2 separate regions of the Homo sapiens genome follow, and region 1 is linked to region 2. Evidence: fine-mapped expression QTL. A gene starts in region 2. The other region holds a variant in brackets. All regions are shown on one strand. Distances are between the middles of the regions.

Region 1 (16,448 bases), 140 kb before region 2:
AGACTAAAACTCAACATTCAAGATTCCAATAAAAGGGATCTAGACATTGGAATTGAAATATCCCCCAAATCTCTACTGATATTATTGCTATTTTTATTGCCAATATTCTCAATAGGAATAATCTCATGTCAACATTTAACCAATCTTTTCTCCATTTATCTTTTCTACCCTAGAAATGCAAGACAGGTAAGAAAATCACTTACATCCAACTACCTTCTAGTTGGATAATTGTTCACTTTTAGTCAGGAATTTGAATGGTTTTCCATTCTTACATAATTCATCTCCATTAAAATCAGTCTGACATCCTTGCAAATTTATCCACAATATGGGGAGAGTTTTACAGATGTATATCACCATAATATTAATGATAGTGAAAAAAAAAATGGAAGCAACCCAATGTCCGAGAAAAAGAAAATGGTTAAATAAAGGCTGGTATATTGATTAAACAAAATGTCATGCACCATTTACAAGAATGTTTACAAAGATTATATAGCAACACAAAAAATGCTTTTGGCATACAAAGTCTTCACATAAACCAAAAGAGATCTCTTCTCTGATGATCAAATTAATTCCACAGATAATCGAGCACATTACTACTATACATCAGGTATGAAAATAGTTTTAAAATTGTTCCCTAACCATTTTCATCTCTGACAATTTTCACATGCACCTTTCTCCCTGTAAGATAATATTATTTAGGTCACAACCTTCACACACGTGTTATCTTAATTGAATCCTTATAAAATCCAAAGAGGTAAATAATATTATTAGTTCACTGGAGTAACTATTAATATTATTATGAGTGGTGTGTCTCAGGACATTAGATATATTTAATTGTGTTTTGAGGATCCCATTTGTCCAAGTCAACCAAGTCACCAAATTTTGCTAGCCACGGTGACTAAATAGCTCTTTCCTAGCAAAAGAAAACATAAAATTCTCATTATTGAGTTACTGTCTAGGCCAGCACTGTCCAATAAAAATACAAAGCAAACCCTTGGATAGCATTTCTGAAACTGCTCTCGGCCAGAGGAGTGCCTACTACCCTAAAGAGTGAGTCCAAGGCCAGGCAGCATTCACAATAAGCTGACTAAAAAGCCCTTGGGCCTTAGGGGGAACATTGGTAGTAATCTGCCAGTACTCCTCATGGCCTGGAGTGGTGGTGGGTATGGGATAAGACTCCTCTGCCTTTGGAAAGGGGAGGGAAAAATGGAAAGTACAATAGAACATCAGATGGCCTTTTAAGGTTTTTGACTCTAGTTCCTGGCTCCCAAACAACACCTATGGACCCTCCTGGGTCCTGGAGAAAATCACAATCCTGCAGGGAAGGACGCAGGCCTGGCTGACTTTGCCACCTGCTGACTGTAGAGCCCTATGGCACTGAGCAAACATAGGCCATAGCCAGGGAGTAGTTAAGCAGGCCTTGGGCAAGACCCAGTGCTGTGCTGGCTTCAGGTCTGACCCAGGACATTCCTAGCGGTAGTAGCCAAAGGGTGCTTATGTCACTCCACCCCCATCTCCAGTTGACTCAGAACAAAGATATAAACTCTGTTTGTTTGGGAGAAAGTAAGGGAAGAGAACAAGAGTCTGCCTGGTAATCCAAAGAATTCTCCCAGTGCTTGTCCAAGAACATCAAGGTGGCACCTCTACACGTCTGCAAGAACCACAGTGTTACTGGACTTTGGGTACCCCCTAAAACAAATACAGCTTAGATCACAACACTTACGTCTTTTAGAATACCTGGAAAGCCCTCCCAAGAAAGACTGGTACAAGAAAGCCCACACTGAGAAGACTAGAATAAATACTTAACTCTTCAATGCCCAGACACAGATGAACATCTGCAAGAATGAAGACAATCCATGAAAACACAACATCACCAAATGAACTAAATAACGCATCAGGGACCAGTCCTGGAGAAACAGATATGCGACCTTTCAGACAAAGAATTCAAAAGCTGTTTTGAGGAAATGCAATGAAATTCAAGATAACGCAGAGAAGGAATTCAAAATGCTATCAGAAAAAATTTAACAAAGAGATTGAAATAATTAAAAAGAATCAAGCAGAAATTCTGGAGCTGAAAAGTGCAATTGACATACTGAAGGATGCATCACAGTCTTTTAATAACAGAAATGATCAAGCAGAAGAATGAATTAGTGAGCTTGAAGACAGGCTATTTGAAAATACATAGAAGAGACAAAAGAAAACAGAATTTTTTTAAAAAAATGAAGCACACCTGCGATATCTAGAAAATAGCTTCAAGAGGGCAAATCTAATAGTTATTGGCTTTAAAGAGAAGGTAGAGAAAGGAATAGGAGTAGAAAGTTTATTCAAAGGGAAAATGACAGAGAACTTCCCAAACCTGGAGAAAGATATCAATATTCAAGGACAAGAAGGTTATAGAACATCAAGCAGATTTAACCCAAAGAAGTCTGTCTCAAGGCATTTAACAATCAAATTCCCAAAGATCAAGGATTAATAAAAAAAGATCCTGGCTGGGCACGGTGGCTCACGCCTGTAATCCCAGTACTTTGGAAGGCCGAGGCAGGCGGATCACAAGGTCAGGAGATCGAGACCATCTTGGCTAACACGGTGAAACCCCGTCTCTACTAAAAATACAAAAATTAGCTGGGCGCGGTGGCAGGCGCCTGTAGTCCCAGCTACTCGGGAGGCTGAGGCAGGAGAATGGCGTGAACCTGGGAGGCGGAGCTTGCAGTGAGCCGAGATTGTGCCACTGCACTCCAGCCTGGGCTAAAGAGCGGGACTCTGTCTCAAAAAAAAAAAAAAAAAAAAAAAGATCCTAAAAGCAACAACAGAAAAGAAACAAATAACGTACAATGGAGCTCCAATATGTCGGGCAGCAGATTTTTCAGTGGAAATCTTACAGGCCAGGAAAGAGTGCATGATATATTTAAAGCAATAAAGGAAAAAATTTTTACCCTAGAATAGTATATATCTGGTGAAAATATCCTTCAAACATAAAGGAGAAATAAAGACTTCCCCAGACAAACAAAAGCTGAGGGATTTCATCAATACTAGACTCATCCTGCAAGAAATGTTAAAGGGAGTACTTCACTTAGAAAGAAAGGAATGTTAATTAGTAATAAGAAATCATCTGAAGTTACAAAACTCACTGGTAATAGTAAGTACACAGAAAAACACAGAATATTACAACACTGTAACTGTGGTGTGTAAACTACTGTTATCCTAAGTAGAAAGCCTAAACAATGAACCAAACAAAAACAATAACAACTTTTTGAGACATAGCACAATAAGATATAAATAGAAACAAGAGGCCGGGCGCAGTGGCTCATGCCTGTAATCCCAGCACTTTGAGAGGCCAAGGCAGGAGGTTTATGAGGTCAGGAAATCAAGATCATCCTGGCTAACATGGTGAAATCCCATCTCTACTAAAAGCACAAAAAATTAGCTGGGCATGGTGGCATGCACCTGTAGTCCTAGCTACTCGGGAGGCTGAGGCAGGAGAATCACTTGAACCTGGAAGGTGGAGGTTGCAGTGAACCGAGATTGCACCACTGCACTCCAGCCTGGGCGACAGAGTGAGACTCTGTCTCAAAAAAAAAAAAAAAAAAAAAAGCAAGAAAGAAGAAAAAGGTAAAAAGCAGGAGGACAAAGCTAAGGCATAGAGTCTTTATTTGTTTTCTTTTTGCTTGTTTGTTTATGAAACAGTGTTGGTATCAGCTTAAAATATGAGTTATAAGATAGTATTTGCAAGCCTCATGGTAACCTCAAACCAGAAAACATACAATGGATACACAAAAAATAAGCAAGAAATTAAATCACATCACCAGAGAAAATCGCCTTCATTAAAAGGAAGGAAAGGGAAGAAAAGACCACAAAACAAGCAGAAAACATAGAACAAAATGACAGAAGTCCTTATTTATTAATAATAACGTTGAATGTAAATGGACTAAACTCTTCAGTCAAAATATACTGACTGAATGGATGGGAAAAAAAAGAAGTAATAACCTGTTGCCTACAAAAAATACACACATAAACTGAAAATAAAGGGATGGGAAAAGATATCCCATGCTATTGGAAACCAAAAGACAGCAGGAGTCACTATGCTTGTATCAGACAAAATAGATTTCAAGACAAAAACTATATGAAGAGACAAAGGTCTCTGTATAATGATAAAGGAGTCAATTCAGCTAGAGAATATAACAATTTTAAATATATATGCACCCAACACTGGAGCACCCAGATACATAAAGCAAATATTATTACAGCTAAAGAAAGAGAGAGGCCCCAGTACAATATACAATAATAGCTGGAAACTTTAACACCTCACTTTCAGCCTTGGACAGATATTCTAGACAGAAAATCAACAAAGAAACATCATACTTCATCTGCACTATAGACCAAATGGATCTAATAGATATTTACAGAACATTTTATCCAAGAGCTACAGAATACACATTTTTTGTTCATCAGCACATGGATCATTCTCAATGACAGACCTTATGTTAGGTCACAAAACTAGTCTTAAAATATTTTTAAATGAAATAATATCAGTCATCTTCTCTGTACACAATGGAATAAAACTAGAAATCAACAACAAGAAGAATCTTGGAAACTATACAAATGCATGGAAATTAAACAATATGCTCCTGGATATGGGTCAATGAAGACATTAAGAAGGAAATTGGGCCAATGAAGAAATTAAGAACACTGAAAATTTCTTGAAACGAATGATAATGGAAACAACATGCCAAAACCTATGGGATATAGCAAAAGCAGTACTCATACATACCTACCCAAAAAAAGAAGAAAAACTTCAAACAACCTAACAATGCATCTTAAAGAACTAGAAAGGCAAGAGCAAACCAAAACCAAAATTAGTAGACGAAAAGAAATAATAAAAATCAGAGCAGAAATAAAGGAAATTGAGATGAAGAAAACAATACAAAAGATCAATAAAACAAAAAGTTGGTTTTAAAAAACATAAACAAAATAGACAAACCTTTATCCAGACTAAGAAAAAAAGAGAGAAGACCCAAATAAATAAAATCAGAAATGAAAAAGGAGATATTACAACTGATACTGAAGAAATTCAAAAGATCCTTAGTGGCTACTATGAGCAACTATATGCCAATAAATTAAAAAATCTAGAAGAAATGGACAAACTCCTAGACACATGCAAACTACCAAGATTGAACCAGGAAAAAATCCAAAACCTGAATAGACCAATAACAAGTAACAAGATTGAAGCTGTTATAAAGTCTTCCAGTAAAGAAAAGACCAGCACCCAATGGCTTCACTGCTGAATTCTACAAACATTCAAAGAAAAGCTAATATCGATTTTCCTCAAACTATTCCAAAATTAGAGGATGAGAGCATACTTCCAAACTCATTCTACGAGGCCAGTATTACTCTTATATCCAAATCAGAAAAAGAGACATCAAAAAAAGGAAACTACATGCCAATATCTCTGATGAATATTGACACAAATATCTTCAACAAAATACTAGCAAACCAAATTCAACAATACATTTAAAAGGCCATTTGTCATGACCAAATGGGATTTATCCCTGAGATGCAAGGATGGTTCAACATACGTAAGCCAATCCATGTGATATATCATATTAACAGAATGAAGGACAAAACCCATATGATCATTTCAATTGATGCTGAAAAAGCATTTGATAAATTTCAACATCCTTCATGATAAAAATCCTCAAACAACTAGAAATAGAAAGAACACACTGGCCGGGTGTGGTGGCTCATGCCTGTAATCCCAGCACTTTGGCAGGCCGAGGTGGGCGGATCACGAGGTCAGGAGTTTGAGACCAGCCTGGCCAACATAGTGAAACCCTGTCTCTACTAAAAATACAAAAAGTTAGCTGGGCGTGGTGGCAGGTGCCTGTAATCCCAGCTACTTGGGGGGCCAAAGCAGGAGAATTGCTTGAACCTGGAAGGTGGAGGTGGCAGTGAGCCGAGATTGTGCCACTGCACTCCAGCCTGGGTGACAGTTCAAGATGCCATCTTAAAAAAAAAAAAAAAAAAAAAAAGAAGGAACATACCTCAATAGAATAAAAGCCATATATAACAGATTCATAGCTATTATCATACTGAATGGGGAAAAACTGAAAGCCTTTCCTCTAAGATCTGGAACATGCCAAGGATACCCACTTTCACCACTGTTATTCAACATAGTACTGAAATTCCTAGTTAGAGCAATGAGACAAAGAAATAAAGAGCATCCAAATTGGAAAGGAAGAAGTCAAATTGTCCTATTTGCAGATGATATGATTTTGTATTTGGAAAAACCTACACTGCACAAAAAACTATTAGAATTGATCAACAAATTCAGTAAAGTTGCAAGATACAAAATCAACGTACGAAAATCGGTAACATTTCTATATGCCAATAATAAACAATCTGAAAAAAGAAATTTAAAAAGTAATCCCATGTACAATAGCCACAAATTAAACTAAATACCTAGGAATGAACTAAAGAACTGAAAGACCTCTATAATGAAAACTATGAAACACTGATGAAAGAAATTTAAGAGGACACCAAGAAATAGATAAATATTCCAGGTTCATATACTGAAAGAATCAATGTTGTTAAAATGTCCATACTACCCAAAGCAAGCTACAGATTCAATTCAATCACTATCAAAATACCAATGATATTCTCCACAGAAATAGAAAAAACAATCCTAAAATTTATATGGAACCACAGAGGACCCAGAATAACCAAAGCTATCCCAAGCAAAAAGAACAAAATTGAAGAAATCAAATTACCTAATTGCAAATTATACTATGGAGCTATAGAAACCAAAAACAGCTTGATAGTGACATAGAAACAGACACATAGACCAATGGAACAGAATAGAGAACACAGAAATAAATCTACACACCTACAGTGAACTCATTTTCAATAAAGGTGCCAAGAACATACACTGAGGAAAAGACAGTCTCTTCGATAAATGATGCTGGGAAAACAGGTTATCTATATGCAGAAGAACGAAAGTAGATGCCTATCTCTCGCCATATACAAAAACTAAATCAAAATGGATTGAAGGTGTAAATCTAAGACTTCAATCTATGAAATTACTAAAAGAAAACTTCAGGGAAACTCTCCAGGACATTGTTCTGGGCAAGAATTTCTTGAGTAATACCCCACAAGTGCAGGCAATCAAAGCAAAAATGGACAAATGAGATAACATTAAGTTAAAAAGTTCTGCACAACAAAGAAACAATCAACAAAGTGAAGAGACAACTCACAAAATGGGAGAAAATATTTGCAAACAACCATACGACAAGAGATTCATAACCAGAATACATAAGGAACTCAACTCTATAGGAAAAAAATCTAATAATCCAATCAAAAGAT[G/A]AACAAAAGATTTGAATAGACATTTCTCAAAAAAAAGGCATACAAAAGGCATATAACAAGGTTTTCAACACCATTGATTATCAGAGGAATGCAAGTCAAACTACAATAAGATATCATCTCATCCCGGTTAAAATGGCTTATGTCCAAAAGACAGGCAAAAACAAATGCTGGAAAGGAGAGGAGAAAAGGGAACTTTCATACACTGTTGGTGGGAATGTAAATCAGTGCAACTACTATGGAGAACAGTTTTGAGATTCCTCAAAAAATTAAAACTAGAGATACTATATGATCCAGGAATCCTACTGCTGGGTATACACCCAAAAGAAAAAAGATCAGTGTATCAAAGAGATATCTGCATTCCCATGTTTGTTGTAGCGCTCTTCACGATAGCCAAAATTTGGAAGCAACCTAAGTGTTCATCAACAAATGAGTAAATAAAGAAAACATCATATTATACACCATGTAGTACTATTCAGCCATAGAAAAGAACTAGAGCCTGTCATATGCAACAACATGGATGAAATTGGAGGTCATTATGCTAAGTGAAATAAGCCAGGCACAGAAAGACAAACATTCCATGTTCTCACTTATTTGTGGAAACTAAAAATCAAAATAATTGAACTCATGTTGATAGAGAGGAGAAGGATGGTTACCACAGGCTGGGAAAGGCAGCAATGGGGTTTGGGGGATGTGGGGATGGTTAATGGGTACAAAAAAAATAGAAAGAATGAATTAGACTTAGTATTTGACAGCACAACAGGGTGACTATAGTCAATGATAATTTAATTGTACATGTAAAAATAACAAGAAGAGCATAATTTGATTATTAGTGACCCAAGAGATAAATGTTTGAGGGGATGGATACACCCATTTTACATGATGTGATTATTATACATTGCATACCTGCATCAAAATATCTCATGTACCTCATAAATATATACACCTGCTATGTACCCACAAAAATTAAAATGAAAAATTAAAAATGTATATATATTGCATGCCAGGTATGCAAGTTTTAATTTTTTAGTAGCTGCATTAAAAAGGTAAAAAGAAACAGATGAAATTAATTTTAATAATGCCTTTTACTCAACCCAATATATTCAGATTATCATTTCAACATGTAATCAATATAAATTCATTTATTTGAGATAAAAATGAGATATTTTGAATCCTTTTTGTTTTAACCAAGTCTTTGAAGGCTGGTCTGTATTTTACATTTACAGCTCATCTCAATTCAGACTAGCCACATTTCAGGTGCTCAATAGCTTCATGTGAAAAGAGGCTACCATCTTGGACAGCACAGTTGAAGACTAACTGATTGATAAAAGAATGTTGAAAATACTTATGAAAGGTAAATGATGACATAATAAGCGTGAGCTGTAACACCATGTGCCACTTAAGAAGACAATAATACCATTTATATAATTTAGATGCAGATTTTACTAGCATTCCCAGAAAAAAAAAAGTGTAGTGAATTTCTTCTTCTTTCCTTTTGGCAATATCATTCTGAAACCAGTGTGTGTAGAACTTAGGGGAAAAAATCACTAAAATGGTACGGCGTATAATGGAATAAAAATATTATGCCATTGGGATAAGGTGTCCTGGCTTTGAGACAAAAAGTAGAGTCAGACTGAGCACAGTGGCTTATGCCTGTAATTCCAGCCTTCTGGGAGGTGAGGCAGAAGGATTGCTTGAGACCAACGGGAGACATAGCAAGACGCTGTCTGAACGATAAGTAAATATTATCTGGGCATGGTGGTGTATGCCTGTAGTCCTAGCTACTCAGGAAGCTGAGGTGGGAGGATCATTTAAGCCCAGGAATTCGAGGTTACAGTGAGCTATAATCACACCACTGCACTCCAGCCTGGGCGACAGAGAGAGACCTTGTGAAGAAAAAAAAAAAAAAAAAAAAAAAAGTAGAGTCAACGTATCCTGACTCCCATAATAAAAAATTGCAGTTCAAAGGGAGGAGGGCTTCACGGATGACTTGCATATTTCCTAAGCTCCTAAAACATTCTTTAGAGGCAAGTATTTATCACCAACCTTTCTATTTGACAGCATATTAAAGATATTCCTACAGTTTTGGTGTTTCTGTAAGAGCAACTAAGGAATAACCCTGGAAAGATAAGAGCTTTTCATAACAACCAAGCTTTCAAACCAATCAATCCTCAAGACAATACTTTTTAAAAAAATTGAATGAAGTCTACACGTGAAGCTAAAAGCTTTGGTTTTCAAGAACCCTAGGGCTATACTTTAAAACAGCAGTAAAAAACATACTCAAAGATGGAAGAGAATGAGCACTCAAGAGAAACCAAGTGAATGTACAGTTGTGCCCTACCTTATAAATGTTCCTCACGTACTGCCACAGCTAAAATTAGGTCCCCACGTTTGAAATAATCCTTCCACAAAAGGTAGTTTATGTTGTATGAGCTCTTCTGTAACATAACGGTAGAATTTATAGTCTAGTGAGGACTACTACAGCCAAGTAAATAGGCATCTAAATTATTATATAGTGTGAAGACTACCAAGATAGGGAAGGTATAATGGAAGCACGCAGGAGGGGCCATAACCCAGACGTGAGGGGGAGGGAATGTTACTGGCGTCAGCTTCCTGAAGAAAGTGAAGTCTAAGCTAAACCTACACCATGAGTAGGTGTTAGCCTAGTGAAAGGAATTTGAAGCAGAGGAAATGGAATGTCCAAGGCCAGAGAGAAGCGTGACCTGGCATGGCATGTCGAAAAACTGAGATAAGTATGGTGGGAGGGTTGGGAGGGGCTGTCCAGGTGGAGAGATGTGGGTAAGGAGTTAAATAAGAGTGCCATCCTGCCATCCCTTTTAAGCTACGAGTATGGACTTGTTCTCTAGAACAATGGATAGCTACCAGAGGCATCTGAGTAACTGTTTCTGCTTTGACTCCCTACCTTTGGTGGGTTTCTAACTCCTCAATTACATGAAAATTCTAAAACTAAAGCATTTTGCAAGTATTTTGGGGGTAAATGAAAAAGCTAACAAAACACAACTATCTTCAAATATAATGCAGAGAGGGAAAAATAGAGGGCTCAGACAAATTTATTCCCTGGACTTGGAAAGTTAGTATTTTCTCAGTGATTCGTTGAAGATCTATTTTTTAACCTTTTTTTTACGGCCTGGCTGTGTTTCTTTGGAGTTTCATAAAATTAATGGCTTGTAACATCTCATTACTGGGCAAGTCTAAGGGCACCTTTCTCATCATTGCTTGAATTTCTGCCTTGAAGGGAATCCCCAGGATGGGAATTTTCCTGCGAGATGGATTGCTGTTTCATTTGAAGCCTTCCTTTCAACAAGGAAAAATTTCAAATCCCTCTCCATCTAATACATAAGCTTGTGTGCATGAAAACACACACACACACACACACACACACGTACACACACACACACCCATGAATTAAATCAGAACCAGGACAAAAGAAAAGGAGGGAGGAATGACATAAGCAGCTTCCAAAGCACTGCCTCTACCTGATCATAGCCTTTTATCTCAATCATGGCAGGGGGAAAGCCCATGCCCTCAATCAAGCAAAAGATCTCAAGAGAATGCGGGCAGAGCTCATGTCTCTTCTCCAAATATGATTTTTTTTCTATTTTTCCTTTGCTAATGTGTTCAAAGTATTTCCTCTCTCTGGCATTCCACTGCCCTCTATTTCTTAATTTTCTTCTACTGACTCCAGACTGGCAGCTTTTTCTTAGCTCAGTCTCTAAACCCTTTGTGTAGTTTCTTATGGGCATTTACTCTTATTCTACCTATGCCTAGAGAAGATCAAATAAGCTAGTTTGTATCCTCTGTCCAAAACTTCTGCACATTCCTAAGGACCATGAACAAGGAACCACTAAGGCTTTTTTTTCTCTGATCTATATTTATAATGCCACTTCCTGGTTATTTTTATTTTCCAGACCCATAATCTGTTTTGTGGCAAGCCATGGAAGGAACTCTCAGGTTTCTCATGTCTCTCTAAGCAGGATTTGGCAATACTAGATATTGTATTTTAGTAGGATTTTGGCTAGTGTTCAGGACAATAGGCAGAGCATATCCCCCTGGGTTTAAAAAAAAAAAAAAAACTACTGGGGCCTGGGTGTTTATTCTTCTTCTCTCAAGCCACTGGGAATAGAGCTTTCAAACAAGACCAAAGAAAAATATGAGAATAAAAAGGCTTCATGGAAAAAATAAGGTATCTTTAGGGTGAGTCATGCAGGGGAAAGTGTGCCGAGCACCTGTCAGTAGTACCTTTCTGATTCAGTCATGAGTATCAACTTAATTCTTTCTTTTGAGAAGAAAGCCAAGGTATTTTGAAATGCATAGCTGTTTAGATGTGGTACCCATTCTGCAAAGTTAATAACATCTTTGAGGGTTCATTAATCTCAACAAGCCTGAAAAAAAATAAATTTTCATGTTCTTGCTCTCCTACTATCATTCTTACAGTTCTTTTACATAAATAATTGGTTATGGTTCAAATTAAAATAACTTTGACAATTATTAAGCAAGCTAGGAGTGTTTTGAGCTTGCGCTGTGAAGTGAGATATCAGCGCCCCAGGGTGCCTCAAGACCATGTGTTATCTTATGATAACATTCAACTCACTTTTTTCTAGGCTTATAAAATACAAGTTTTTCATTTAGCAGCTGAAATGACTGTGCTCTCTTTAGATAATATTCCCTCACTGAAAGGTTAGTCTCAATAGAATTTTTATGATTAAAGCACAAATGTGGTATTTATGAGGACTAGGATTTGTGTTTCTGGCAACCCGAGTGTCCTCAAAAGCATTGCAGCCCTGTCCTCATTTCACAAGTCCTATAATGTTTTGCAGACCACCGTGTCCTCTATACTTAAATCCTTCTCATAGACTAACAAGTGGCAAGCCTTCACTCTTACACATATTATAATCTTTGTGGGATGCACTAAAGACTTCTGTGTGATGAATTGTCATCTCCCTCAACCTCAAAGGTAACTGGCTATAAAACTGTTTTATGTTGCTAGTATTCCTAGTCCTCGTGTAAAAATACTAGCTGTAATTCAGTGTTGGCAATGTGGTATTATTCATAAAGCATTCAGACTGTACAGTTTTAGAATGTCATCGGAACTTCCTGATTGAATTACAATCTAGCATTCAGCTAAGTGTCCTTTTTTATGCATGAAAATTACTCACAAGCATTTCCCAACATCTCCAGGGCCTACATGGGAGTTCCAGAGGGAGCAACACTTTGCATAATCCTTCAAAAATATCTTCAGGGACATTCAAGAACCAAGAATTGGATAAAGCTTTTAAAATCAATGCTGGTTATAAAAGAAAAAAAACATAGCTTACAAGATGAAAATGTGTTGATGATTTTCCAAAGAGGAAGAGGAAGCCTCTGAAAATATGACTCAACTTCACTTGCTGGTTTCCAAAGCAAATTCTAAGTTGATGACATGGATTTAGCCCAACTGTGTCAGACAATTTTTGGTGAGGTAGGCGATGGGGTTTTGTTTGTTTCTTGCAGAATTTGGGGGTACTTGATTTGCGCTGTTCTTTGCTAAAAACACTTATCTGCCCCACTCAAAATCCATTCACACATAGATGTTTTCTTATTCACATTTCTATGTTTAATTTCAAGAGATAATACTTTTACAGATGACTTTCCCTATTGTATCAGCTTCTCTAATTCTAGCACTATAATCAGCATCTTATTTTACAAGTGCTTTTTCTTGACTCTAGCCTTATTTTTTATGTTCTTTCCATAATTTTATAAATTCCCTTTCTTTATAAATAAGAAAATAATTTTTTCCTCTGTTGTGGCCTTTTCCAACTTTGTCCAATAGCAAATTTGTCCAGCCTAGCTGGTGGCAGTATATTTAGTACTAAGTAATATAATGAATCTTCTAAATATGAGCTCTGTGGCTCTGTAGTGTGGTGGTGTCATAGAATATCAGAGATATTTTAGTCCTGATTCAATACCTGCACATACATGACATATAGACATAACATTGTTTTATGCCTGTAGACTTGCTTTGTTTCTTCAAAAATATATGTTAATAAAAATGTGAGCAGATTTGCTGCTTCATTGAATATTTAACACTGCTTCATTAAATTAGTTCACTGTCAATAACAGATTTCATTCTAAGATTCAAGGCAGGAGATGGGGAATGGCAACAATCTGAAAAATAAAAAAAGAAGGAACTTCTAAGAATATTTAGATTTCTTTGTCATACAGTCTGCACCTTCTGTCAATTCCTAGGCACTTACTGTCGATAGTAAATTTGTCCAGTCTAAACTTACTAGATTCATTCTGTTTTATTATTAAATAAAGTCATTTAACACTGCATACTAAAGCTAAATTAAACATGTTCCCAGGATAATTATCTCTATATATACTTACATTCATTCACGAGAACACTACTTTCAATCTTATAATACTAATGCTTTCAAATTCACACCTCAATGCCAATATTCTCCTCTGACTTTAACATTTTCTGGATTGATAATCAATATAGTGGAGTTATTGTCATTCATAAAATTAAGATATAGGTCATTAGCTAATCTTGATAGTAAGACATTTACGTGTAATGTTACACAAGGATGTTTTGTTTTGTTATTGCCAATTAGTAGTCCAAGTTAATTGGAAGTTTTCTTTGTGGGGCATAGAATTATGTGGCTCAAACACATTTTCAAAATGACAATACAAGACAGAGTCATAATTAGTAAAATTTTATACCCCAAATTTCTCTTATTTCAATACATATTTAATTATGATGTGAGTGGGCTTCCTTTAAAAACAATCCAGAAAATTCTACTTAGGCTAACTTTATAATAAACAATATAACTGCTCTTTTCATATAATTTGTTTCAAAAAGCATATGTTAGTAACTGGAATTTTCAAGTAATTCTGAATTCTTCCAAAGCACAGGTCTACTAAAATGGCCCTACTAAGACCTCTGGTAAGAGAGCAGCAACAATTCAACTGCCTGAATGAAATGCCAAATGGCATAAAGTAAAATCGTTGTGTGTCGCCCCTGAGTTATTCACACATCAGCAGGAAGTGAAATGAGGAGCCTGAATTCCATGTCCTTTACCACTTGCCCTCTGTGGCATTTATGAAAGAACCCCTCATAAGGAAAAATAACATCAATAATGATGATCTTACGCCTCATCTCTTAAATATTCACAGCTCAGCAAAAGCCTAATAAGAAGAGTGGCCTTTATGTCCTCTTTCTAGATGTCCTTCCAATATCATTTGAGGAAACCTTGTAAAAGACAAATAACAATCATGATAGAAAATTTATTTCGAAAGAAGGAAAGGAATGATGAGGAAGGTATTTGATAGAAATTTCAGTAGATGAGCTTTGATATTACCTCTTGTTTTGCTACTCCTCTTGGGAAGAACCAACCCTCAATTAGCGATTGAGTTTAAACTCCTCTGAACAAGTATTATTTCTCTGATTACTCAGAAAGATCTATTTTCTTCCGATATTTTATTATTACTTGTCCAGCCAGAATTCCAAACCAACATTCCTTCTAAAATATCTCCTTGCTCCTCTTTTCATTCTGCCAGTTTCACCAGCTTACTTTCATTCCCATTTCCCACTATTTTAACTGCCACTCTAATATATATGTCTCACTTATAACCCTCAGCCATCTCCAAACCTTTCAGAGAATACCCATAATGGAAACATTACAGGATTAGGAATTAGGGCTCAGAATATCTCAGCTCTAATCAGAGAAGCAATATAGTATATGTGTTTAAGAGTGAGGGCTAAAGAGATTAAATAAATAGATCCTACTCCCAGCTTTACCACTTACTAATTATGTGATGGTGGTGAACTTATTTAACCTCCCTGGGCCAATTTCTTCATCTGTAAAATGGAGATAAAAACAACATATATCTCAGTGGCTGGGTGTGGTGGTTCATGCCTGTAATCCCAGCACTTCGGGAAGCCGAGGTGGGCGGATCATGAGGTCAGGAGTTAAAGACCAGCCTGACCAATATGGTGAAGCTCTGTCTCTACTAAAAATACAAAAATTAGCTGGGAATGGTGGTGCGCACCTGTAATCCCAACTACTCAGGAGGCTGAGGCATGAGAATCGCTTGAACCCGGGAGGCAGAGGTTGCAGTGAGCTGAGATCAGGCCACTGCACTCCAGCCTGGGAGACAGAAAGAGATTCTGTATCAAAAAAAAAAGTATATATATATATATAGAAAGTTATCAAGATTAACAAGGTAGAGCATTTAGAATTCTACCTACTAACTGGGGAGCAGCCAAGATGGTAGCATAGGAACAGCTCTGGTCTACAGCTCCCAGCGTGAGTGACGCAGAAGATGGGTGATTTCTGCATTTCTATCTGAGGTACCGGGTTCATCTCACTAGGGAGTGCCAGACAGTGGGCGCAGGACAGTGGGTGCAGCGCACCGTGCACGAGCCGAAGCAGGGCGAGGCATTGCCTCACTCGGGAAGTGCAAGGGGTCAGGGAGTTCTCTTTCCTAGTCAAAGAAAGGGGTGACAGACGGCACCTGGAAAATCAGGTCACTCCCACCTGAATACTGCGCTTTTCCGACAGGCTTAAAAAACAGTGCACCAGGAGATTATATCCCACACCTGGCTCGGAGGGTCCTACGCCCACGGAGTCTCGCTGATTGCTAGCACAGCAGTCTGAGATCAAACTGCAAGGCGGCAGCAAGGCTGCGGGAGGGGCGCCCGCCATTACCCAGGCTTGCTTAGGTAGACAAAGCAGCAGGGAAGCTCGAACTGGGTGGAGCCCACCACAGCTCAAGGAGGCCTGCCTGCCTCTGTAGGCTCCACCTCTGGGGGCAGGGCACAGACAAACAAAAAGACAGCAGTAACCTCTGCAGACTTAAATGTTCCTGTCTGACAGCTTTGAAGAGAGCAGTGCTTCTCCCAGCACACAGCTGGAGATCTGAGAATGGGCAGACTGTCTCCTCAAGTGGGTCCCTGACCCCTGACCCCTGAGCAGCCTAACTGGGAGGCACCCCCCAGCAGGGGCAGACTGACACCTCACAGGACCCGGTACTCCTCTGAGACAAAACTTCCAGAGAAACGATCAGACAGCAGCGTTCGCGGTTCATGAAAA
Region 2 (16,448 bases):
GTCTCACTTGCAATTTTTGCTTTTGTTGTCATTGCTTTTGAGGACTTAGTCATAAATTTTTCCCAAAGTCAATGTCCAGAATGGTGTTTCCTATGTTTTCTTCTAAGATTCTTATAGTTTGAAGTCTTACATTTAATTCTCTGATCCATCTTGAGTTAATTTTTCCATATCAAACAAGGTAGGGGTCCAGTTTCATTCTTCTGCATATGGATAGCCAGTTATCCCAGCACCATTTATTGAGTAGAGAGTCCTTTCCCCATTGCTGATTTTGGTTTACTTTGTTGAAGGTCAGCTGGCTATAGGAATGCAGCTTTATTTCTGGGTTCTTTCTTCTGTTCCATTGGTCTATGTGTCTGTTTTTGTACCAGTACCATGCTGTTTTGCTTACTGTAGCCTTACAATATAGTTTGAAGCCAGGTAATGTGATGCTTCTGGCTTTGTTCTTTTTTCTTGGGATTACTTTGCCTATTTGGGCTCTTTATTACTTTATTACTTCCATATGAATTTTAGAATAGTTTTTTCTGATTCTGTGAAAAATGCCATTGGTAGCTTCATAGAAATAGCATTGAATCTGTAGATTGCTTTGGGGAGTTTGACCATTTTATTATTCTTCCAATCCATGATCATGGAATGTTTTTCCATTTGTTTCTGTCATCTATGATTTATTTCAGCAGCGTTTTGTAGTTTTCTTTGTAGAGACCTTTTACTTCCTTGGTTAGAGGTGAAACCAAGGGGTGTGTGTGTATGTGTGTGTGTACTGTAAATTAGGCTATGTTCTTCATTTGGCTCTCAGCTTGAACATTATTGGTGTAAAGATATGGTACTGATTTTTGTACATTGATTTTGTATCCTGACACTTTACTGAAGTCATTTTTCAGTTCCAAAAGTCTTTGGCAGTCTTTAGGGATTCCTAGGAGAGATAGTTTGACTTCTTCTTTTCCTATTTGGATGCCTTTTCTTTCTTTCTCTTGCCTGATTGCTCTGGCTTGCACTTCCGGTACTGTGTTCAACAGGAGTGGGAAGAGTGGGCATCCTTGTCTTGTTCCAGTTCTCAAGGGGGATGCTTCCTAAAATGTCAATTTGAAAGCCTGATTTTTGTCTTTGACTTTGAACACTGAAAGACAATCCAGAGAACTAGCAAATTTACATTTAAAAACCTGCCTTTTAAGTTTTTAAAAACTATGAATTTAAAATTGCTTCTTTTAAAATTGGGTTTTAAATTTTTGATTCTACAAGAAAATTTTCATTCAACAAGCACTTAGGACCTGTTCTGAGTTTCTTCAGAGCCTTTCTTAAAAGATAAGGCACATATTGAAGGTAGAGTTATTAAGAATGAGAAGGTGGAGAAAAAATAAAAATAAATAAATAAACAATGCAGCTCTCATCCAAAATCCTAATGGCCCAAAAAAGCTACAAAAAAAGATGCCTGAGAGGCCACCCCTCCTTTCATATTAAAAAGCTATAGTGATTTGTAGAGTCAGAGCTTAACAAATCACCCTATTCTTCATCCTTTCCTTCACTAAGTTGTCAGACAGATGCAGAATAGAAATCAGCAATGTGAAATTGTGGTTTCTCAACTGAATGAGGAATTTTTCACCATGACTTTAATGTTCCTCTGTCATGGGCCCTAATGGGAAACTACCAAAAGTTATAAAATTCGATTATACTATGGGAATCCACAGAAGGGGGTAAAGAGAAAGCAAAGGCAAAAAAGAAATGTCTTTATTTTGAACCCTAATCATTTATTTAAAAGCTGTGTCTCATCTAAACACAGAACAATGGGATAGGGAAAGCTCCTGCTTCCGGATCCCTTTTTCAGAAGCAGCTTCCTAGCTTCTCTCTGGAAGAAAGGAAAGATGATAGGGCTAGCCCATAGCTTCTCAGCCTTGGCAACATTGACAATTTGCACTAGGTAATCTTTTGTTGTGAGGAGGTACATTATAGAATGTTAGTAGCATCCCTGGTCTCTACCCACTGGATGCCACCAGCGCCACTCCAGTCATGACAATCAAAATATCTCCAGACACTGTAAAATTGCCCCTGGTTGAGAAGCATTAGGCTAGTTCCCGCACAATTTTTTTTTTTAATTTTTCTTTAGTTCTTTAAGATCCTTTCAAGTGAGGGAATGGACTGCCACAGTCAGCAACAAGATGACTGGCAAACTCTTGTCTTCTGGAAACTTTTTCCTACTATGGCATATTTTATTATTTTGTCAGAAAATCCATTTCTATACCTCTCTTAATACTCCATTTAATATTTCTTAAAGATAATACATTTAAAGACGTAAAAGAAGATAAAAGAGAAACATCCTTAGAACTAGGCAACATAAGACCATTCTACATTAATTCATCTTACCTCCATAGGAAACTGTCATAAAAAGCACCCAAAATTTAAAATAGTAAAAGAGAGGTTAAAACCCACCTCAATACACAGATAGTAACAAACAACAAGGAATAAAACCCACTATTATTCTTCCATCTTAAAAAAGCAAATCTTTTTTCAACTCCACAACTCCCATCCCCAGCCATATCATTTCTTTGCTCCCTTTAAAGCAAAACCCTTCAAAACAGTTAACTGTGCTGTCTTTAATTTTCCTCCTCTTCATTCTCTCTTAACCCACTTCACTCAAAGCATCATTGCCACCACTTCACCTGGGCTGTCTTTGACTTTCATATTAATTAATTAAGGTCTTCAATGACTTTCATATTAATAAATACAATGGCCATTTCTCAACCCTGATCTTACCTGACCTATGGGCAGCGTTTGACACTGTTGATTATCATTTTCCTCCTTGATACACTTTCTTCCTTGGTTCCAAGACCCCACACCCACTTCTTAGTCACCAGTTGCTCTTTCTCAATCTCCTTTACTGACTCCTCCCCTTCTCACTTATCTCTTAATAATGGAGCAGCCCTGGGCTCAGATCATTTCTCTCAATCTATACTCAATTCCCAGTGAGTCTTCCAGTCTGTGATCTTAAATACCACCAATGTTCTGATGAATTCCAAATTCATATGATCAGCCCAAGCCTCTCTCCAAGACTCCAGACTTACATATCCAGCTTCCTACTTGTCATCTTCACTTGTATATCAAATAAATATTTCAAACCCAAATGTGTCCAAAACTAAACTTCTGATCCTTCCCCATAAACTTGCCCCTTCTACAATCTTCAAATAGTAGTTGATGCCAAGTCCACCTTCTCTTAGTTGTTTAGGTCAAAAACTGTGCATTAATCCATCACTCCTTTCTTTCTCTCACATGAAACATCCTGTTAGTTTTTAAAATTATATAAGTTCTACCTTAAAAATATATTCAGTATCCTTCCATTTCTCATGTTCACCACTGCTTCTACCCTGATAGATGCCACTATCATCTCTCAACTGAATTATTTTTTATAAGCAACTTTTTATTTTAAAATATTAATTGACAAATAAAGACTGTATGTATTCAAAGTGTACAACATGATGATTTGGTATATGTACACGTTGTATAATAAATAATTATTACAACCAAATTTAATAACACATCTGACATAGTTTGGGCTGTGTCCCCACCCAAATCTCATCTTGAATTGTAACTCCCATAATTCCCACATGTCATGGGAGGGACCCAGTGGGAGGTAATTGAATCATGGGGGTGGGTCTTTGCCATGCTGTTTTCATGATAGTAAGTCTCATGAGATCTGATGGTTTTATAAAGGGGAGTTCCCCTGTACATGCTATCTTGCATGCTGCCATGTAAGATGTGACTTTGTTCCTCATTCACCTTCTGCCATGATGGTGAGGCCTCACCAGCCATGTGGAACTGTGAGTCAATTAAACCTCTTTCCTTTATAAGTTACCCAATCTTGGGTATGTCTTCATTAGCAGCATGAAAACAAACTAATACAATATCCATCACTATCTATGCTGTATATTATGTCCCCAGAACTTGTCTTATAACTGTAAGTTTGTACTGTTTGACTAGTATCTCCTCACTTCTCCCACTCCCCCAGCCTTTGGCAACCACCATTCTACTCACTGCTTCTATGAGTTCAATAATTTTGGATTCCACATATAAGTGAGATCATACAGTATTTTTCTTTTTGTGCCTGGTTGATTTCACTTAGTATAAAGTCCTCCAGGTTTATCCATGTTGTTGTAAGTCAATAGCAAAAACAAAACAAAACAAAACAAAAAACAAAAAAAAACAAATAACCCAACTTAAAAATAGGCAAAGGAACTGAAAATATATTTTTCCAGAGAAAAAGATATGGAATCAACCTACGTGTCTATCCACAGATGAATGGATAAACAAAATGTGAGGGGTATGTGTGTGTGTGTGTGTGTGTTGTGTGTGTACACAATGGAGTATTATTCAGCCACCAGAAGAAGAAAATTTTTAAAGAGTTATTGCAAAAGATTCCTTACTAGTCTTCTAGTTTCTCATTACCCCTACATATTGGCTCGATATTCTCAACACAGTCGCCGTAGCAATTATTTTAAAATGTAAGTCAGATCATATTTTTCCTCTGTTCAAAATCTGAACTGGTGCCACATTTCCCCAGAGTAAAAACCAAAGTCTTAAAACTTTCTAAAAAGTTTAATATAATTTAGTCTTCCCTCATCTTTCTGACTTCATTTTCTATTTCTATCCCCCTTACTAATTCCACTTGGTCTTCTTTCTGTTAGTCAAACATACCAGGTATATTTTCACTGTAGGGTCTTTGCTCTGGCTTTTCCTTCCTTCTGGAAGTCTCCTCCCCTTCCACTGCTTCATGTCCTTCAATATTACCTCGTCAATTGGTCCTACCCTAACCACCCTATTAATACTTGCAGCTGGCCCACCATCATCCCATGATTAGCAATCCAAATCCCCCTTACTATGCTCATTTTTTTTTCTTTCTGTCATGGCACTTTTCAATTTTTAATATCAACAATGTATTCATGCTTATTATTCATTGTTTGTCTTCCCTATGTATAGTGTAAACCTCATGAAGAATTCATTTTGTTCCCTGATTTATCCCAAGCATGCTTAGAATAGTGCCCAGTACATAGTAAGCGATTGATTAACACTTATTGAATGAATAGAGAACTACATGAACGAATAAAATAGATTAATATCCTACTCTCAAGTAGAAGAGACGGCAACCTTCCTTTCTTAAATCCTCTTTCTCAGTCTCCTATTTATACCTCAAAGGACTAACTGGGCTGGGAGGAGGAAGGGATTCTTTGGTAAGGAGGAATAGATAAATACAGCTGGAAAGGTTTTTATTTGAATATTTTAGGGTTTCATTTCTTTGGGTTTTTTCTTTTTTAATTGGCAAGTAAAAATTTATATATTTATGGTGTGAAACCTGATGTTTTGATATATATACACATTGTGGAATGGCTAAATCAAGCTATTTAACATATTCATTACCTTACATTCTTATTTTTGATGGTGAGAATAAAAGATTGTAGATTTTAAGAAACTTTCTATCTTCTTAGTTTGGAGGACTGTGAAATCTTGTGCTGTTGGGAGATTTTAGGGCTTTTGTATTCTCTTTATCACTCTGATTTTTGGTTCGGTAGTGCTTCAATTTGGAAAGTATCTTCTAAACTAAATGAACTAGAGGAGCCAGGAATCAGTACTCAAAAAAGCAGAGGAGAAAGCAAGCTGCTACAAGAAACTCAAGGGAAACAAGAAAAGAGAACTTCAGGGTTTCAGCCCAATTCACTAAATAGGAAAGAGGGCTAAGATTCAAGATCAGTGTTGGAACTAGTAACAAATATTACATTTCATGATAGAGGTGCAAAAATAATGAACCACAGGTATATTCATGATCTAATGTTATGTAACCTATTACCCCCAAATTTTAGTGGTTTAAGACAAGAGTAAGCATTTATTATATCTTATGGTTTCTGTGATTCAGGAATCCAGAAGCAGCTTGATTGGATAGCTCTGGGTCGGGGCTATCATGAAATTCAGTCAGATGTTGGCTGAAGCTACAGTCATCTGAAGGCTTGACTTGGTTGCAGGGTCTGTTCCCAAGATAGATCACTCACATAACTAGCAAGTTGTTGCTATTAGCAGGAGGCCTCAGTTCTTCCCACACAGAGCTAAGATTCAAGACTTCTATGCAAGTCAAGAAATACACACACACACACACACACACACACACACACACACACATAGTGAAGTCTGAATATAAATTAGGAACTGAGCTCTTCTTCTCTCTCCATAGGTATATACATATACATACATATACCTATATACACATAGATATCCTGGAGAATTATTTAGAGAGAGCAATATTTCTACATCAGCTCCCTAGGCCAAGTAAGGTGACCCAATGGACTTCACTTTTCTAAAAAGTGCAGTTATACTTATGTATCTTCTCTTACTATTCATCAAAATACCGACAATATTTTGGGCTGAAATGTTAATAATATCTGTATGAACCTCTGCTTCAAAAAATAATCCAAGGGATCCTTGAGTATTTTTAAAACATGGCATCTGGTTTCCCCAAAATGAGCAACATAAGAAAGCAAAGAATACAAAAGAACAAGGCAGAAGCCATAGTGTATGTCTTTATGATGTAGTTTTCTGCTGTACAGTACTGATCACATGGTCAGCTGTGATTCATTTTGGAAGGGGAGTATGAACAGGTGTGAATACCAGTAGGTAAGGATTCCTAGAGATGTTATCAACATCTCAGCCCGAAATATTGTCGATATTTTGGTGAATATTAAGAGAAGATACATAAGTGTAACTGGACTTTTTAGAAAAGTGAAGTCCATTGGGTCACCTTACTTGGCCTAGGGAGCTGATGTAAAAATACTACTCTCTTTAAATAATCCCCCAGGATATCTATATATATACACACACACACACGGAGAGGAAGTGCTCAGTTCCTAATTTATATTCAGACTTCACTATATATATGTGTGTGTGTGTGTGTATTTCTTGAGTTGTATAGAATACGTACTTATGAATAACAAACTTGACCAATTTTCCTACAGACATAGACTTCTTGCATTTAGCAGTATCACTCACCTCTTACTCCATCATTTCTTCAATAACTCCATCAACACTGAACCTTCTAACTCTAACATGCTACGATTCACTACTGTGAAAAAAAAGCTGATGTCATAAACACATTGTGTTCCAGTATCACTAAGGGCCATACCCCATTCTTAGGTAATCCCTGAGGTCCTACTAGCCTTGCTAGCCTCAAAGGAGTCACTTGGAGTATAAAGAGGGGGAGGAGACTGAACAAAGTCCTGGAGCTATAGTATATTTTTTCATTGTTAATCCTTGGCAAAGAAGTAGGTAGTTTGGAGGTGGAAGTAGGCCATGATTACCTTTAAAATAATCTACTATTATTTGTGTCTTTCCTGAATATCATAGCACCTTCTTGTCACAAATGCTTAGGGGAAAGAAAATCATCCAATATACCCCATATCCCACTTACCAACATCTCTACAGTAAAATGAGACCCAAGAGCATGATTTCCTTAACTAGCTATCAAGCAACTACCTCCAACAAACAGCAGTTATCATTAATATGTTCATGCTATTTTCATTTGTGAGGTCTGTAATCCATCAGAACAACCTGACAGTGATTAAGTAAAATCAAAGAGACTTTGTAAACATCTGTGTGCTTTTATTGTTACAAATGCTTCATTATAAAAAGATCAGTCAAAAGCATAAAAGTACCCTGGTTTAAACTTTTTCTGTGTTTGAATGAGAATGTTTCTCTTGGAACATGCTCATATCAGGCTTCCACTTGGCAAAATCACGAATTGGCTGATGTTGTTTTAGAGGCTTTCTCATGTCCCCTTCCAAACATCACTCTTCTCCTTCTGTGGACCCCTTTCTGTTATCTAGGAGCCCCTCATGCTGCCTTCCACATTCTGCCTACTGCACAGTCATGTTCTGGACCCCTCAGAATCCCCCTCTACCATTACAATATGTTTTTCCTAAGACTTACTTGCATTGAAAGGCTTGCCAGGGAAGTGACTAATCTTATCATCTTGTACTAAATGTTAAATTAATCCTCATTCTCTCTAGAATTGTTTTCTAAGCAGGGATTCCTAGAGATGCTATCAATATCTCAGCCTGAAATTGCATAGGTATTCTGGTGAATAGCAAGAGAAAATAACGTGAGTATAACTGGACCTTTTAGAAAAGTGAAGTCTATTAGGTCACCTTAGTTGGCCTAGGGAGTTGATGTAGGAATGCTCCTCTCCCTGAAATAATCTTCCAGGAGAGGAATGTATCCCCAAATAGCAAGTGAATATCCAATGGCTTCTCATTGCACTTAAACTCTATATTCCTTTTTATGACCAAAAAGGCCTGGCTTCTCCCTAACTGTCTCTTCCTTACACATTACACCTCTTCCTTTTGTATGTGAATGTGCCAAGCTACCACCTCATTTCTACCTTAAGGCCTGAAGTGTTATGTTCCAGTTCTTGGCATGCAAATTACTCTTCATCACTTGTTTCCCGACACAAATGCCACCTTTCCAGACAATCTAAAGTAACCTCAAAATCATTTGCTCGCACATCACTTTGTTTTATTTCTCCTGGTATTAATCACTATGTGAAATTTTCTGGTTCATATTATTTGTCACCTGCTTCTTCCAGGCCTCCTCTTACTTCATTGTCTATCATGTTCATTACCGTATCCCTAGTGTTTTGCACAGAATCTGGTACATATTCAGTGCTCAATAAATATGTGCTAAATGAATAAATGAATAAATTAACCTAAACATAAGTTTTACACTTAAGTAATTGAGCAAGAAGTCTTTGTTGTACTAATATTGGAAAAGGCAGGGGTGGGGGTGGTGACGTGATTATAACCAATGTAACCAGCTTGCATTTATAAGACTTGTATTGATTATGAACTATAGCATTTTTTCGTTAAAAACATTATCAATATTGGATTGTAAAAGATTCCATTGGCCTTTCTGAAAGACTGTCCTTTTGATGAGATGTCACAAATGAATGCTAATGTCCCTTGAGAAATCCTGCCAACAGATCTTATTCTTCTATCAATGTTAAGAAACTGCATTTCTCTTTGGCCAATTTCTAGGCTTATGGATAGTCTCTCTTGCTAGGACTTCAGAAGCCAATGAGCAACTTGCCTGTCACAAGATCCGACGAATGATCTCTCCCTGCATGCGGTGTAGCTAAGCAGAGAAGCAGCTCTTGTAAGAGAATAACCAACACAGCATGGAATATTGCTAAATCTACAGTGTTTTATCCAGCAAAGTTCACCCCAGTAGCCTGCCCCTGCCAATAAAGCCTAGAAATTTTTCCTACCAGGCAGTCCCAGTTTAGTTGGTTGTAGCTTAGAAGCAGACATCTGAGAGCAGTTCAGCAAGCCTGCAGTCAGATGCTTTTGTAGAGCTCTCCTCTTAAAAGGCAAAATTGAGGCAAGTCAATAGATTACAACTTTCTGGGTTTGCTTCTGTCATCTATCAAATATCACAATTCATCCTGCTTCGCTAAAGTGAAACTCCAAGGATTTGTTTTTAAAGGTGTCCTTCTTTCTGTGAAATACTAAATGAACTTGTTTTAAAAAACAAGAACAACTCAACACAAGTTGATAGGAGCTAAGTAACATAACTTTTCCTTTAAGAAAAACATGTAGCATGAGAAAACCTTATTTTTAAAGTACTACATAAAATTTATTGAGACCACATGTCGTAAGAAAGCTTGATTATTAATCCTTCCAGAGAAACTGTTAACACTTAACTGCTATTCTTCAATTATTTCACTATCAAATTAAACTTATTCAAGAAAATACAAATGATTCCATACTGACCTACAAAACAAAAACTTTTTGGTGTTTTGAGGGGACGGAAGAATAAAGGGGAGGTGTCTTTTTCATCAAATCTCTTATATGAGCTCATTTCATCAATCTAATTGTATCTTTTTGTGCTTCTGCCAAGATTATTAATTTCAAGGGTAAGATTTTCTCTGGCTACCATGTACTGTAAAACTGTAAAATTTTTTCCACTCTTCATGGACCATTTACAATCTGCAAGGTTTGGGGTGGGAATGAAATGTATTTCTGCCAATGGATAGCCACATCAGCAGTGCTGAAAACCAATCCTTCTGTTTCACTCATCGTGCCATATGGCTCCATAAAAAAGGAGCGAACCAAAAGTGTAGCTCATACGCCTTGTCAATCTGGGCTTAGACTAATTATTTGATATTATGATAAAGAGAGGAATCTGTTTGTAGGTGAATATATTCTCTCTTCTTTCTTTACTCGTGTATCTCTATACCCATGCGCTAATTTATGGAGGGGGGGAATCAGAGGTTTAAAGCCCCTCTAATTTTACAGGAGCTATAATATTTTAAGAAAAGGCATTGCAATAAAATTGTCATACATAGGTTATAATTTTTAACAACAAAAAGTCCCAGGTGTTTTCATAGTAATGTCTTCTTAAGAATTAAGGATCATGATTTTAAACGCTTTCCAGTAAGTGCTTTGAGTACTCCGGAGCAATTAAAAAGCAAGCTGACGCGCCAAGATAAAGTTGTGTCCCCCTAGTGACCTCTAGAGCGGAGCTAAGCTCCCACAAGCCAGACTTGGGAGGAAAAGCAAAAAGCACGCCAAAGCCTGAGCGCTGCTGTAGTCCAAGCCAATGTATTCAGTAATACCCTTCACCCCTCAGTTCTCATCTGAGTTCCTGTCCTTTTTTATATAACCCCAAAGGCTCAGTAAGTCGCTGCCTCCCAGGTCATTGGGCCCATTGTGTTGAAATCCAACTTCGAACGACGCCCCTTCCTTGCCACCATCCTCAGGTCCAGTTCCCCCGCGCACAGCCTTCCTCACCGCGCATGGTGTCGAGCCCACTTCCACCTCTCTGCAGTGCTGCAGACAACCTCTAGGGCTCTGCGAGTCCCCCAGCGAGAGCTAGGGAGCCGACAAGCTGCGACCTCTGCGAGTCCGCGCTGCGGGAGCGGGTGGCTTGCACCTGCTCCCCGCGCGCCGGCTCTGCGACCCCTAGGCAAGACGCAGCCCAGGAGGCTCCCTCCCGAGTCGCGCCCCGGACCACGCCGCAATGCCTCGTCACCCCAGCAACAAGCTCTTCCTTGTCCTCCCCGCCATCGCTTCTCTCCGCGAACTTTCCAACTTTGGAAGCCCGGGTTCCAAAGGAGCAACAGGGAGACTGCTTAGCCGGAGCCACTGCCCGTCTCGACAGGTTGGGGAGCAGGAAGTAGCCTGCAGGGACTCGGCCGGTAGCAAGTCCCCTTGACCGCAGGGAAAAGGAGAGGCAGCCAGCTCCAATCTCCTCCTGAGGATGGAGGTTGGGGAAATGGATGCAGAACTTGTCACCCTAGGGACGAAGGGGCGGAGGGAGGGGGGATTGGAAGAAAAGAATAGAAGAGACCATGAAAAACTCTCTCTCTCTCTTACACACACACACACATACATACACACACACACACACACACACACACACACACACACACACACGAGAGGGAGAGAGAGAGAGATTCCGGAAAAGACAAGATGCTAGGAGCCCAGTCGCTTCTCTCCCCACTGCCCAGAGGCTAGGAGGTGCAACAGATAGATACCCAAGCTCGCCGAGTAGCAAAGGGGTGGGGTGAGAGAGGAGTCTCCAGGTTTCCCCAGGTTGCAAAAGGGGCACAAACTCCTGTCAGTGTCCCCGGAGGCCAGGGGAGGTGCAGCGGCGCCGCGGTTTCCCCCACCCCCTCCCCGGACACGGCAAACTCTTCCCCGGCAGGAGCCTTCCACTTGGCCGCGCCTGGATGTAAACAGGCCGGCCCGAGGGGCAGAGGGCGGGTGAGAGAGGGGAGGCGGCGAGGGGAGGAGGGAGCGGGACTCACCCTTGATGCTGGGGGGCTTTCTCTTCTTGGCCATCTTCTGTCCCCTTCCCTCCCCCGGACCCCCCACGCGCTTCCTCCGGCTGCCGCGCAGCTCCCAGGCGAGCCCTCGCCGCGGCTCTCAGCTCAGCGAGCTCTTTGTTGCTGTGATGGCATCTGCGAGCAGCAGCGGCGGCCGGGCTGCGCGCTCAGCTCGGCTCGGCTCGGCTGGGGCGGGCGCCGCCGCCCCTCTGCTCTCGGCCGCGCCGCTGGCCCCCCTCTTGCGCTGCTGTGGACGCGGTGGCTGCTGCGGCGGCGGCGGCTGCTGTGCTGCTCCTGCTGCTGGAGGGGGCAGCGCTGGGTCCCCTGAGCGCCCGCCCAGCGCTGACCTCCCCCTTCTCCACACCCTCCCTCCCCCACGCCCCCACCCCCGGTGTCCCGTCTGAGCCGCCAGCCCCCATCCAACCGGCTACCGCGCCGTCATCCAGCAGCCTCTACTGGAAAGACAACGGTGGCGGCGGCGGGGAGCTGCTGGGGGGCGCGGAGAGACCGCGGCCATCTGGGGCCGGGAAGGAGAAAGCCAGGCAGAGTCTGATGGAGTCTGCCTCCGGCCTGCCTTCCTCTGGGCCTTCGAAGCCCCCTCTCAAAAGGCCAGGACGCGCTGGGCCCAAGAAAGACACCCGTCTTCACAGGCCAACCAGAACTCTGGCCACCTGCGGGAGGACGGCACTGTCCCTTGCGACCCGGCCCAGGAGCCGTCCTCCTCCACAGCCTCCTCGAGGATAGCGAGCCCGAATTCCACGCGGGCGATGAGCCCCGAAGCGCGCGGTTGCCTCTGCCCCTCCCGAACCGAGAAGGAAAGAGGGGAGAGGGAAACAGGAGTCTGATGGAGGGGAGAGAAATGGAATTCCAGAGGCAGCCCACGGGCAGACACCTGCAAGAATGGCTGTGTTCTGGCCCTGAAGTTCTTAATAGTGAGGGCCCAGGATAGTTCCCTTGGGGCTGTGGGAAAAGAGGGAAGTTCACGCTCTCAGATGTTGGAGGAATTGGAAGCCGGAGGTGTGATTTCTTGGCCTCCAGCAGAAACTTGGTTACAGTGGCCACGTTCTTTCTCTCTCTGATTGGGGGTTTGCTTTGGAAAGTTCTCATGTTCCTGGAGGAGCTGTCCTCCCCTCGCGTGCTGATAAGGGATGAAAAGAAGTTCTGCTGGCGTCCCAGAACTGCAAGGGCAGGCGAAAGTTTAAGAATATAAAGGAGTATCGGACCTTAAAAAGAAACGCTTAAAGGGTAGGGTAGGGAGAGGTTACCAGGGTGTGCCACTGTGGGAAGAGGCTACAATATCGAATTTTTTTTATATGCTGCAGCTGAGATTGCCGCCGAAACGCACTTCCTAATTCGCAGTGACCTTCTTAACACTTCTCCTTTCCTCCTCCTAGGTTAGTACAGTTCCCAGCCCAATCTGATTGTCTAAACATTCAGTGAGTTAATTCAATATCTCCACCCAGAAGTTGCCCCAGTACTAGTGTGGTGCGGCAAAAAGAACAGTGAAGTCAAAAACCCCAATTGTGAATTCTGGCCCTGTAACTTCGTAGCTCTGAGAATTTGGACAAGTCACTCAATCTCTCTGCTCTTCTGTTTTCTGATATGTGCGATATCATCTCAAAAATTTCTTCCAGCTCCTGAGATATTAGTGACAAAATCATCACAAGTTATTTTTTCAGCCCTTCTAAATATAGCTTCATATAATGTAATATATTGAAGTAAATAATCTAGAAACATGTGAAATGACCAATTCCTCTCACAATGAAGATGTGCATCAGAAATAAAAAACAAAGAACATGTTTCTTTTAATAAGCAAAATAGACCCATTCTCAGACTTATGATCAGAAATAAGACTGACTCAAAGTTTTCCTCTTCCAAACAGCTGCCTCTTATTTAATTAAAAACTACTCTTCTAGGTCTTCAAATGTTTACTGTGTATAATATTAGACTTTGTAAATATTTCAGTCCATTTTATGTGCTCATATTTTATCACCAACTACTAATTATTGCCTATATTAGAATAATGTTTTTCTGTTTATTCATTACTTTCACATACTTTATTTCATTTAATCATGACCACACCCATGAGTTGAAAAGCAGGTCCTGTCTTCTAGGTTTTACAGACGGTGAAATGGGATTCGTGGAGGTATGATAACTTGCCCACAGCTTCGGTGTAACTCTTTTAACTCAATACCCAGCTCTCTCCACAACACTAGCTGCCTATGTGAAATAGAATATTTCTGCTTCAGACCAGGAATGGTTTCCTTTTTCTAATTTATTCCTTCCACAATGTCAGTACTATTCTCAACAGAGGAGACTCAAATTTAGTTGACTAGTTAGGACTATTTTTGGTACATGGATGTGATTAATATGCTTTTACACTGTTAGCACTTCAAAGTGTCCTTACATGCATTATCTCAATTAAGGTCATGACAATCACATAAGATCATCAAAAGAGGTTTATTCAGCCCTGCTGAACAGATGAGGAAACTGAGACCAAAAGACATTAAGGCCACAACTACCCAGGCCCTGGATTTCCAGGCCAAGTGTTTCCCCTATAGCCCACACTGTGTGTTTTTGTTCAAGGGTTGCAATTAGAATGACTGCAGGGAACAGTAAGACAGAATACATGACACCATCAGTATAAATATACAGTCATGCATTGCTTAACAACAGAAATACATTCTGAGAAATGTGTCTTTAGGTGATTTCATCCTTGTGCAAACACCATAAAGTATACTTAAACAAACATACATGGTATAGCCTACTATACACTTAGGCTATGTGGTATAATCCATTGCTCCTCAGCTACAAACCTGTGTAAGATGTTACTATACTGAATATTATAGGCAATTGTAAAACAATGCTAAGTATTTGTGTATCCAAACATATCCAAACATAGAAAAGGTGCCATAAAAGGCTGGGCATGGTGGCTCAGCCTGTAATCCTAGCACTTTGGGAGGCTGAGATGGGTGGACCACCTGTGGTCAGGAGTTCACGACCAGCCTGGCCAACATGGTGAAACCCCATCTCCACAAAAAATACAAAAATTAGCTGGGTGTGGTGGCAGGTACCTGTAATCCCAGTTACTTGGGAGGCTGAGACAGGAGAATCGCTTGAACCTGGGATGTGGAGGTTGCAGTGAGCCGAGACTGCACCATTGCACTCCAGTCTGGGCAACAAGAGCGAAACTCTGTCTCAAAAAAAAAGGGGGGGGGGAAGGAAAGAAGGAAGGAAGGAAGAAGGGGAGGGAGGAAGGGAGAGCGGGAAGGAGGCAGGGAGTGAGACAGGGAGTGAGACAGGGAGGATGGAAGGAAGGAAGGAAGGGAGAAGGAAGGAAGAAAGGGACGGAGAGCAGGAGGGAGGGAGGGAGGAAGGGAGGAAGGAACAAAGGAAGGAAGAAAGAAAAGGTGCTGTAAAAATGCAGTATTATGAATTTATGGGACCACTGTCATATATTCAGTCCATCATTGACTGAAATATCATTATGCAGTGCGTTGCTGTATAGATGTACTTGACCAAGGGAAGGGGACTGTAGAGAACTGAGAGGGTGTGTACCACTAGTCAGCTGCAGGATGCCTTGTGGGAATGAAAACGTCGGGGCTGTAAGAATTCTGATTTTTCAGGAGTCAGAAATCCAAATTTTCTGGTGAAATATTCTTTTTGATGTTGATTAATACATTAAAAAAACAAAAACACAAACACAAAAAAGGGTAGGCCTAACAGAACACATCTGCCAATAATATGTAGACTATGAGCTATGTGTCCATGTGTCTGTTTTTAAATTTCATCAATTGCTTTTAACCTCCAAACAGCAAGGGCTGAACCAAATCCTTGAGTATGGTTCTAATTCTGATGGCATCTAATGTCCCTAGAATTAGAGATTACCAAGGCCTTGGGTGCAATTAATTATGATTTATAAAAATGATTTGTGTGATAGGTGTTTCTAAATTTCTGGCTATTCTTTTTATTATTATTATACTTTAAGTTCTGGGATACATGTGCAGAATGTGCAGGTTTGTTACATAGGTATTCACGTGCCATGGTGGTTTGCTGCATCCATCAACCCATCATCTACATTAGGTATTTATCGTAATCCTATCCCTCCCCTAGTCCCCCACTCACTGACAGACCCCAGTGTGTGATGTTCCTCTCCCCGTGTCCGTGTGTTCTTATTGTTCAACTCCCACTTATGATTGACAACATGTGGTGTTTGGTTTTCTGCTCCTGTGTTAGTTTGCTGAGAATGATGGTTTCCAGCTTCATCCATGTCCCTCCAAAGGATATGAACTCACCCTTTTTTATGGCTGCACAGTATTCCATGGTGTATATGTGCCACATTTTCTTTATCCAGTCTATCACTGTTGGGCCTTTGGGTTGGTTCCAAGTCTTTGCTATCGTGAACAGTGCTGCAATAAACATACATGTGCATGTGTCTTTATAGTAGAATGATTTGTAATCCTTTGGGTATATACCCAGTAATAGGATTGCTGGGTCAAATTGGTATTTCTGATTCTAGATCCTTGAGGAATCACCACACTGTCTTCCACAATGGTTGAACTAATTTACACTCCCACCAACAGTGTAAAAGTGTTCCTAT

The links. PIP is the estimated chance that this variant, and not a neighbour inherited with it, causes the effect.
Region 1: its variant is fine-mapped to the expression of SLC44A5 in whole blood (TOPMed, PIP 0.96).

Annotation. Positions count from the first base shown.
Region 1 is chr1:75,460,653-75,477,100 of GRCh38, forward strand. All of the region lies in intron 2 of SLC44A5 (solute carrier family 44 member 5), which reads right to left. Among named protein-coding and RNA genes, the nearest start is that of SLC44A5, 140 kb to the right of the region's middle. RefSeq lists an enhancer at 15,958-16,448. The variant G/A (reference allele first, on the strand shown) is at 7,357.
Region 2 is chr1:75,604,023-75,620,470 of GRCh38, forward strand. It overlaps SLC44A5 (solute carrier family 44 member 5), which reads right to left and starts at 7,092. Exons shown (of 24, transcript NM_001130058.2): 1 at 7,018-7,092. RefSeq lists a silencer at 11,921-12,140.